2 linked regions of the Homo sapiens genome follow. The protein of the gene in region 2 purifies or fractionates together with the protein of the main gene of each other region. This does not show direct contact. Each region holds a gene or a part of one and is shown on either strand. Other genes may lie near its edges.

Region 1 (3,915 bases), on a different chromosome or scaffold from region 2:
AACCAATGTCCCCTCATATAACCAATGTCCTCATACTCAGCCAATGTCCCCTTACTATAACCACTTAGTCCCCTTACTATAACCACTATACTCTGCTGCCATACCTTGGGGACTATATCAGAATCTTAGTGGGGGTTGGTAGGTCAGGAGGAGAGGGAGGAGTCTGAAAAATATATATCCAATATACCCACTGATTTTATCAAATAAATGACAAAATAGTTGGCTGTTGGAGATCTGTAGAAGATAGAGTGAGAAAACAGGGTAGAGAGCATAGGATTCAACGGGCTGAGAAATACTCATGTCTTCCACCTATTCCACCATTTAAAGTTGTTGTGGCCACAGGAGCGAGAGCCCCTGTAACAGATCCCTGTACACAGGAGCCTATAAAACACTAGACTTGGTAAACTAGTCCTCTTCGAAGCTTTGAGTGGAAATCATATTTCTTCTAGATGTTTTCATTATCTTATACGACTAATTGGTCTCCTGGAGGCCATCCCTGTTCCCACAAGGCCAAGGCAGATGTTGCAGCTTCCCCCACAACGCAGCCTCTAGTTTAGCATTCAACAGAAAGGAAGTGCTCTCTCTATGAGGCAACTATCGAGTGTTGCATATTGAATGTTGTCTCCTGTTTAAAGCAATGGCGAGAATAATAAAAGCTACCTTTGCCTCTTAAAAATATTTATAAATAAGACCTTATTATCTTTTGCTTACATTCCTCATTTTACAGGAGAGGAAACTGAGGCATGTGGCCACAAAGTGATTTTTCCAAGACATGCCAATCACAGTGTAGCACAAGCAACCAAAGGGCAGTGAGACTCTGGTTTTATTTTTCTAGTTCCAGTTTAACGACTAGCTCTGAATAGCCTTGGGCCTGCCCCCACTCAAAACAGAACTAAAGTGGAGTTGTCACAAATAAGTCATCTGGAGAAATAATAGAAAAAGAGGGTGTTTCTCTTCCCTGTATTCTCAGGAGGAAAGGAGTAGGGGAGCACACAGCACTACAGAGACCCCTGCTGGCGTTCAGCCTGCCTGCCTTCGGGAGCATCTGCCAGTTCCATTTTATCAGCGAGAGTCACTGTCCTTCAGAGATGACCCCCTTGCAGCACCACTATTCCCCAAACACACCTGCAAGGGGATTAAAACTCCACCTCCTTGAATTCCCACAAGTCTATCACACTATACCACCAGTTAAATAAATGCTGCAGGGGCCGGGCGCAGTGGCTCACGCCTATATTCCCAGCATTTTGGGACGCCGAGGTGGGTGGATCACCTGAGGTCAGGAGTTCGAGACCAGCCTGGCCAACATGGTGAAAACCCATCTCTACAAAAAATACAAAAATTACCCTGTTGTGGTGGCAGGCGCCTGTAATCCCAGCGACTCAGGAGGCTGAGGCAGGAGAATCGCTTGAACCCGGGAGGCAGAGGTTGCAGTGAGCTGAGATCACGCCACTGCACTCTAGCCTGGGCGACAAAGCAAGTCTCCCTCTCAGAATAAACAAATAAAAAATAAATGCCAGGCCGGGTGTGATGGCTCACACCTGTAATCCCAGCACTTTGGGAGGCCAAGGTGGGCAGATCACCTGAGGTCAGGAGTTCAAGACCAGCCTGGCCAACATGGAGAAACCCCGTCTCTACTAAAAATAAAAAATTAGCCGGCATGATGGCAGGTGCCTGTAATCCCAGCTACTCGGGAGGCTGAGGCGGGAGAATCGCTTGAACCTGGGAAGTGGAGGTTGCAGTGAGCCGAGATCGCACCATTGCACTCCAGCCTGGGCAACACAGTAAGACCCTGTCTCAAAAATAAATAAATAAATAAATAAATAAATGCCACAGAAAGATAGATGTGGACATTGTGCCAAAGAAAACAGTATCTGCCAAACTTTTGGTGCTGCTTTCCCAATATTTTCTTTTCAAAAGCCCATGACTCTTGATGGGGGAAGATGGTGAATTTTCCCAGAGGAGTGTGATCTTGCAATGGAAACCCTTTGCAGCCGGTTAGGACATGGCACTGGCCATGCTTTCAGACTGCTCTCTTGGGAGCTTTTGGTATTATGTATTGAAGCCATGTGTATACTTTGATTATAACTTCAGAAATCACCCCTAATACCACAATCTAGTGGCAAATGTTTCCAAAAGAAACTATTAATTACAAAATGGTTTTGGGGTTTTTGTTTGTTTGTTTTTGTTTTTTGAGATGGAGTGTTGCTCTGTCGCCCAGTGGCGTAGTCTCCACTCACTGCAACCTTCACCTCCTGGGTTCAAGCAATCCTCCTGCTTCAGCCTCCCAAGTAGCTGAGACTATAGGTGTGCACCACCACACCCAGCTAATTTTTGTATTTTTTGTAGAGATGAGGTTTCACCATGTTGGCCAGGCTGGTCTCGAACTCCTGACCTCAGGTGATCCGCCCATCTTGGCCTCCCAAAGTTCTGGGATTACAGGCATGAGCCACTGTGCCTCGCCAAAATGTTTTTGAAATACAGATGTGTATAGAACTTTTTTATCTAGGGGTGGTTCTTCTAGATTGAAATCTCCATCAAAAATTAAGGAAAGGAAAAAAGTCATCTTCCATCCTTTATGGGTGGTGTCTAATGTCCCTCAGTAGAGGAAACAGAACTCAAAGGGAAGCCAGCTAAGTATTTGATGTGTGTTATGCTTTATCCCCACAATAGGCCTGTAAGATAGGTGCTATTATGATCCCTATTTTACGAAGGAAACTGAGGTTAAACAAGTTGCTTGAAGTTTATATAGCCAGTAAGTAGAGCCAGGTTTCAACCCATAGAGTCTTGATTCTCACCGATTTCTCTAGCCAACTGCATTTTTCCTTATTTGGTCTCCTCTTGGGATCTCCCCAGCTGCCTTTGTCCTCAGAAGCTTTCTTCATAGTGGTCCCATCATTATTCGCTTCTTTTTACATGGAAATCATGCATCTATATATATAAAAAGTAAAACAGAAACAAATGCTGACATTTTCCTTTTAATTCACATTTCAAGTTTTCTAATTTGAGCAGTTCCATCTGTCCTCTAGAAAGGGAAATCTTACATTAATAAAAAAAAAAGAAAAGAAAAGAAAACTCAGATTGTATACAAAGAAACTCTTTTCTCTGCCTGTTCTTGGAATTATTCTTCCTCATGGAGGCTAGCGTCTTTAAAAGCCTACTACTGAATGATATGTATTCTTGTAGCATTAGAGAGCGGGGCTTCTTGGGCCTTTCAAGATGAACCACAGGATAGCTAATCCTCCTCAGTTTACTCTCTTCTTAGGCCAGTCTCTGTAAGACATAGCCTTTCTTGAGCTTTTTTGAAATATGTTGTTTATCCATCATCCTTTTAAAGGTTTCAAATAGAAGGCAGTGTGCTCACATTAGACATTAAATGCCAACGTGAAAAGTAAAGTTTCATAGATAAGATCATTGGAATTGGTATGTTTAAAGCCTCCTTGAAAATAATGTTCTTGCTTCATGAACTGGTGTTTTCTTTTTGTATGCTTCATGTAGATGAATGGACAGAGGTGGACAGAAAACGAGGTATGCTATCTCCGGGCTGCATGTGTTCAGTGTGCATCCACAGGTTCACTCAGGCCTTTATCAGCAGGGCTTAAAATGGGACCGCTTGAAACATTTCAAAGTCAAAGTAAGAAAATAGGCATGAGTTTGTCTTTAGCTGAGATATTGGTTATACATTTGAATCTTTTACTTAAGAGGAAGAAATACAGCATGTTAAGATGAAAACTAAGCAAACTCTGACCAAAAAGCCACACTGTACTTGAGGGATATGTCTCCTTTTCTCAGTTCCAAGCTTTGCTGGGACAGCTGGGGCAATAGCCATACTTTGGGGTATGTCATCCTATTTGGTAGTCCTTAAAACAACTTTGTTTTGTCATGTAACCAAAGAATTGTGCTTCAACATGAGTGACC
Region 2 (3,915 bases):
GAGGCAGACGGATCACTTGAGGTCAGGAGTTCAAGACCAGCCTGGCCAACATGATGAAACCCCATCTCTACTAAAAATACAAAAATTAGCTGGGCGTGGTGGTGCGCACCTGTAATCCTAGCTACTCGGGAGGCTGAGGCAGAAGAATCTCTTGAACCTGGGAGGTGGAGCTTGCAGTGAGCTGAGATCACGCCACTGCACTCTAGCCTGGGCAACAGAGTGAGACTCCATCTCAAAAAAAAAAAAAAAAAAAAAGACAGTAGGACAACTGGAATTAAGATAAACTTCTGCCAGATTCAAGATCCAATACTGTTTCCATCACAAGGCTTCCAATTCAGTCAGGCACAGACTGCACACTCAGTCAGTACCTGTTTCCTTCCACCACATCAATGAGGTCATCAGCTGTAGCATCACTACGTAGAGTCACATCGGCATTATGAATCTTGTATTCAGCCAGAATGCTCTTCACAGTTTCAGCATCCAGCTCACTCTGGGGGCACTGAAAGGGAATAGCAGATGACTAGTCAGCACAAAATTTAAAAAAAATACTTGTCAAGTGTACCAATATCCATGTACCTGGAAAATTCTAGCTAAGATGCAAACTCATTACTAAATACATCCGGGATGAGTGTCACTGACTTTTAGTAGGAAATAAATGTCCAAACTCCAAGGAAGGTGTTACACGCTGAACTGTGTTCCTCCTTCCCCCACCAAATAATTCACATGAAGTCTTAACCTCAGTATCTCAGAATGTGATGTATTTGGAGATAGGGTCTTTAAAGCGGTAATCAAATTAGAATAAGGTCATTAGGGTGGGGCCATAATCCAATACTGGTGGTCCTAATAAGAAAAGGAGATTAGGACACAGACACACAGAGCAAACACCATATGAAGTCCCATCTGTAAGCCAAGGACAGAAGCCTCAGAAGAAATCAACCCTGCCATCAACTTCATCTCAGACTTCTAGCCTCTAGAATTATGAAAAATAAATTTCTGTTATTTAAGCCACCCATCTGTGGTACCGTATTATGGCAGCACTGAAACTAACACAGAAATAATCTTAAATGTTCAAATTTGAATATTAAGACGGGATAATGGGAAAGATGTTTTGGGCAGGACAGCTGAAACCTATGCCAGTCAAATCATCTGGGCTCTGAAGTGTTAAATTTAGTAGGAAACTCTCAGTCCTCAATTCTGACAGAGAAGCAGCATTTGACAGAATTGGTCACTCCTATGTGAAACACTTTACTTGGCTTCCAGTATTTCAAACTCTTTCAGTTTTCCTTCTCTCTCTTGGTCTAAGAAGTCTTATTTCTCTGAGTCTCTTTTCTTTCTTTTTTTTCTTTTGAGACGGAGTTTTGCTCTTGTTGCCCAGGCTGGAGTGCAGTGGCGCGATCTCAGCTCACTGCAACCTCCGCCTCCTGGGTTCAAGCAATTCTCCTGCCTCAGCCTCCGAAGTACCAGGATCACAGGCACGTGCCACCACGCCTGGCTAATTTTTGTATTTTTAGTACAGACAGGGTTTTGCCATGTTGGTCAGGCTGGCCTCCAACTCCTGACCTCATGTAATCTGCCCACTTCGGCCTCCCAAAGTGTTGGGATTACAGGCGTAAGCCACCGTGCCTGGCCGATTCTCTTTTCTTTTCTTTCTTTCTTTCTTTTTTTTTTTGAGACGGAGTCCCGCTCTGTCACCAGGCTGGAGTGCAGTGGCGTCATCTCGGCTCACTGCAACCTCCACCTCTTGGGTTCGATTCTCCTGCCTCAGCCTCCCGAGTAGCTGAGATTACAAGTGCGTGCCACCATGCCCGGCTAATTTTTGTGTTTTTAGTAGATACAGGGTTTCACCATGTTGGCCAGGATGGTCTCCATCTCTTGACCTTGTGATCCGCCCACCTCGGACTCCCAAAGTACTGGGATTACAGGTGTGAGCCACTGCACCCAGCTCTCTTTTCTTTTCTATCTATACTCACATCCTTGGTGATCTCAGTTAGGCCCATGACATTAAAGTTGATAATCACCAAATTTATATATCCAGCCTAGATAATTCCTCATGCCTTCTTTATTATTTTTATAGAGATGGGGTCTCACTTTGTTGCCCAAGCTGGTCTTGAACTCCTGGGCTCAAGTGATCCTCCTGCCTCAACCTCCCAAAGTGCTGGGATTATAGATGTACAGGCATGAGCCACCATGCCCAGCCTACCCCACATGCCCTCTTGACTGAAATACCTGGATGTCTCACTGGCATCTAAAATTTAACATCCTGATCTTCTCCTTCCCTCCAAATCTATTCTACCAAAAGTCCTACCATTTTAGTAATAAGAGTTCATTTTTTTTTTAGCTCAGGAAATAAAAAACATGGCTGGGTATGGTGGCTCATACCTGTAATCCCAACACTTTGGGAGACCGAAGCAGGAGACAGCTTGAGGCCAAAAGTTCAAGACCAGCCTGGGCAACATGGCAAATCTCCGTTTCTACCAAAAAAAAAAAAAAAAAAAAAAATTAGCCAAGCCTGGAGGCATGTGACTTAGCCCTAGCTACTTAGAAGGCTGAGGCAGGAGGGTCACTTGAGCCCAAGAGTTTTGAGCTAACAGTGAACTATGATTGTGCCACTGTACTCCAGCCTAAGCAACAGAATGAAACCGACCAGCCTGGCCAACATGGTGAAACCCCGTCTCTACTAAAAATACAAAAGTTAGCTGGGTGCGATGGCAGGCACCTGTAATCCCAGCTACTCAGGAGGTTGAGGCATGAAGCAAATGCTCTTCTTCAAGATATCCACTTGGTTCACACCTTCATGTCACCTCAGTAAAGACTTCCCTGACCAACGTTCTTAAAACTGCAACCCTCACACCAACACTCTTATCTCCTTTCCCTACTTTGTGTTCTTATATTTATCATTGACGAATACATTATATTTTACTCATTAACATTGTTTTCTATTCTATCCAATTAGAATATAAAAGCAGGGGGTTTCACTATTCCCTCTTCCATTCCTGCCCAGAGCCTAAAATAATGCTTGGCCCGTGGTAGGCACTCTATAAATTTGTGTTAAATGAATGAAAACAGAAGATATTGGCGGCCATCTACTTTATGCAAGCATAATATTGGTCCACACGCCCATATCATTCCCAATAGATAATCCAAAAGAGGAAATAAGTAGCAAAGGTAAGTCTGAGACTGGCTCCTATCCTAATCTTGAAGTTTTTCTTGTCAGTCATTATAAAGTCATTGTGTTATCTCAATTAGTGCAGGGAAAAGCCAGGAAATTTTCCAATGTCAGGGTCCATGCACCCCAATCCACTCCCCATTCCAATTCCTGCAGCAGCCTGCCCCATGTCATATTCCCCACTTACAGTGGCTGTGAGATTAATGCCTCCCTTGTCCTTCTTCTTAAAGCCAATGTTGGGGGGTTTGCTGTTCAAGCGAATGCCAAAGCCTTCCAGCTCATTTTCAATTATCTTCTTATGTCCCAAAGGTTTCAGGACATCCAGAACAATCAAGATCAAGTTACAGGTTCGGGCCACTGAAGAGTAAGAAAAAAACATACGCAAGAAAGTTCAATAAAGCCTTAACTAACCCAAATACTCAAGTAGAGGTGTTTTTTCCCCCTACATTTAAGTGTCAAAGGATTTTTCTGTAATACATACATGCATACGTGAAGTTCTTATAGCTACAGAAGATTTATACCAGAAGTCAATTTGCTTTGTATGCCATGAAATCAGCACCTATTTGCCCAAGAGTTGACACATTTTCTGTTGCCCAGGCTGGAGTGCAGTGGCACAATCTTGGCTTACTGCAACCTCTGCCTCCCGGGTTCAAGCGATTCTCCTCCCTCAGCCACCCCAGTAGCTGGGACTACAGGCACATGCCACCATGCCTGGCTAATTGTATTTTAGTAGAGACGAGGTTTCCTCA

The links.
Region 1: the proteins of DRG1 (region 2) and OSCP1 purify together in Homo sapiens (affinity purification with mass spectrometry; 2 studies listed by BioGRID and IntAct, with this or other methods). This does not show direct contact.

The regions. Positions count from the first base shown.
Region 1 is NC_000001.11:36,443,614-36,447,528, reverse strand, and holds part of OSCP1 (protein OSCP1), read left to right. Parts: intron 1-2,721; exon of another isoform or gene 2,722-2,928; intron 2,929-3,495; coding exon of another isoform or gene 3,496-3,525; intron 3,526-3,915. UniProt on the Homo sapiens protein: May be involved in drug clearance in the placenta.
Region 2 is NC_000022.11:31,419,864-31,423,778, reverse strand, and holds part of DRG1 (developmentally-regulated GTP-binding protein 1), read right to left. Parts: intron 3,524-3,915; coding exon 3,354-3,523; intron 500-3,353; coding exon 369-499; intron 1-368. UniProt on the Homo sapiens protein: Catalyzes the conversion of GTP to GDP through hydrolysis of the gamma-phosphate bond in GTP. Appears to have an intrinsic GTPase activity that is stimulated by ZC3H15/DFRP1 binding likely by increasing the affinity for the potassium ions.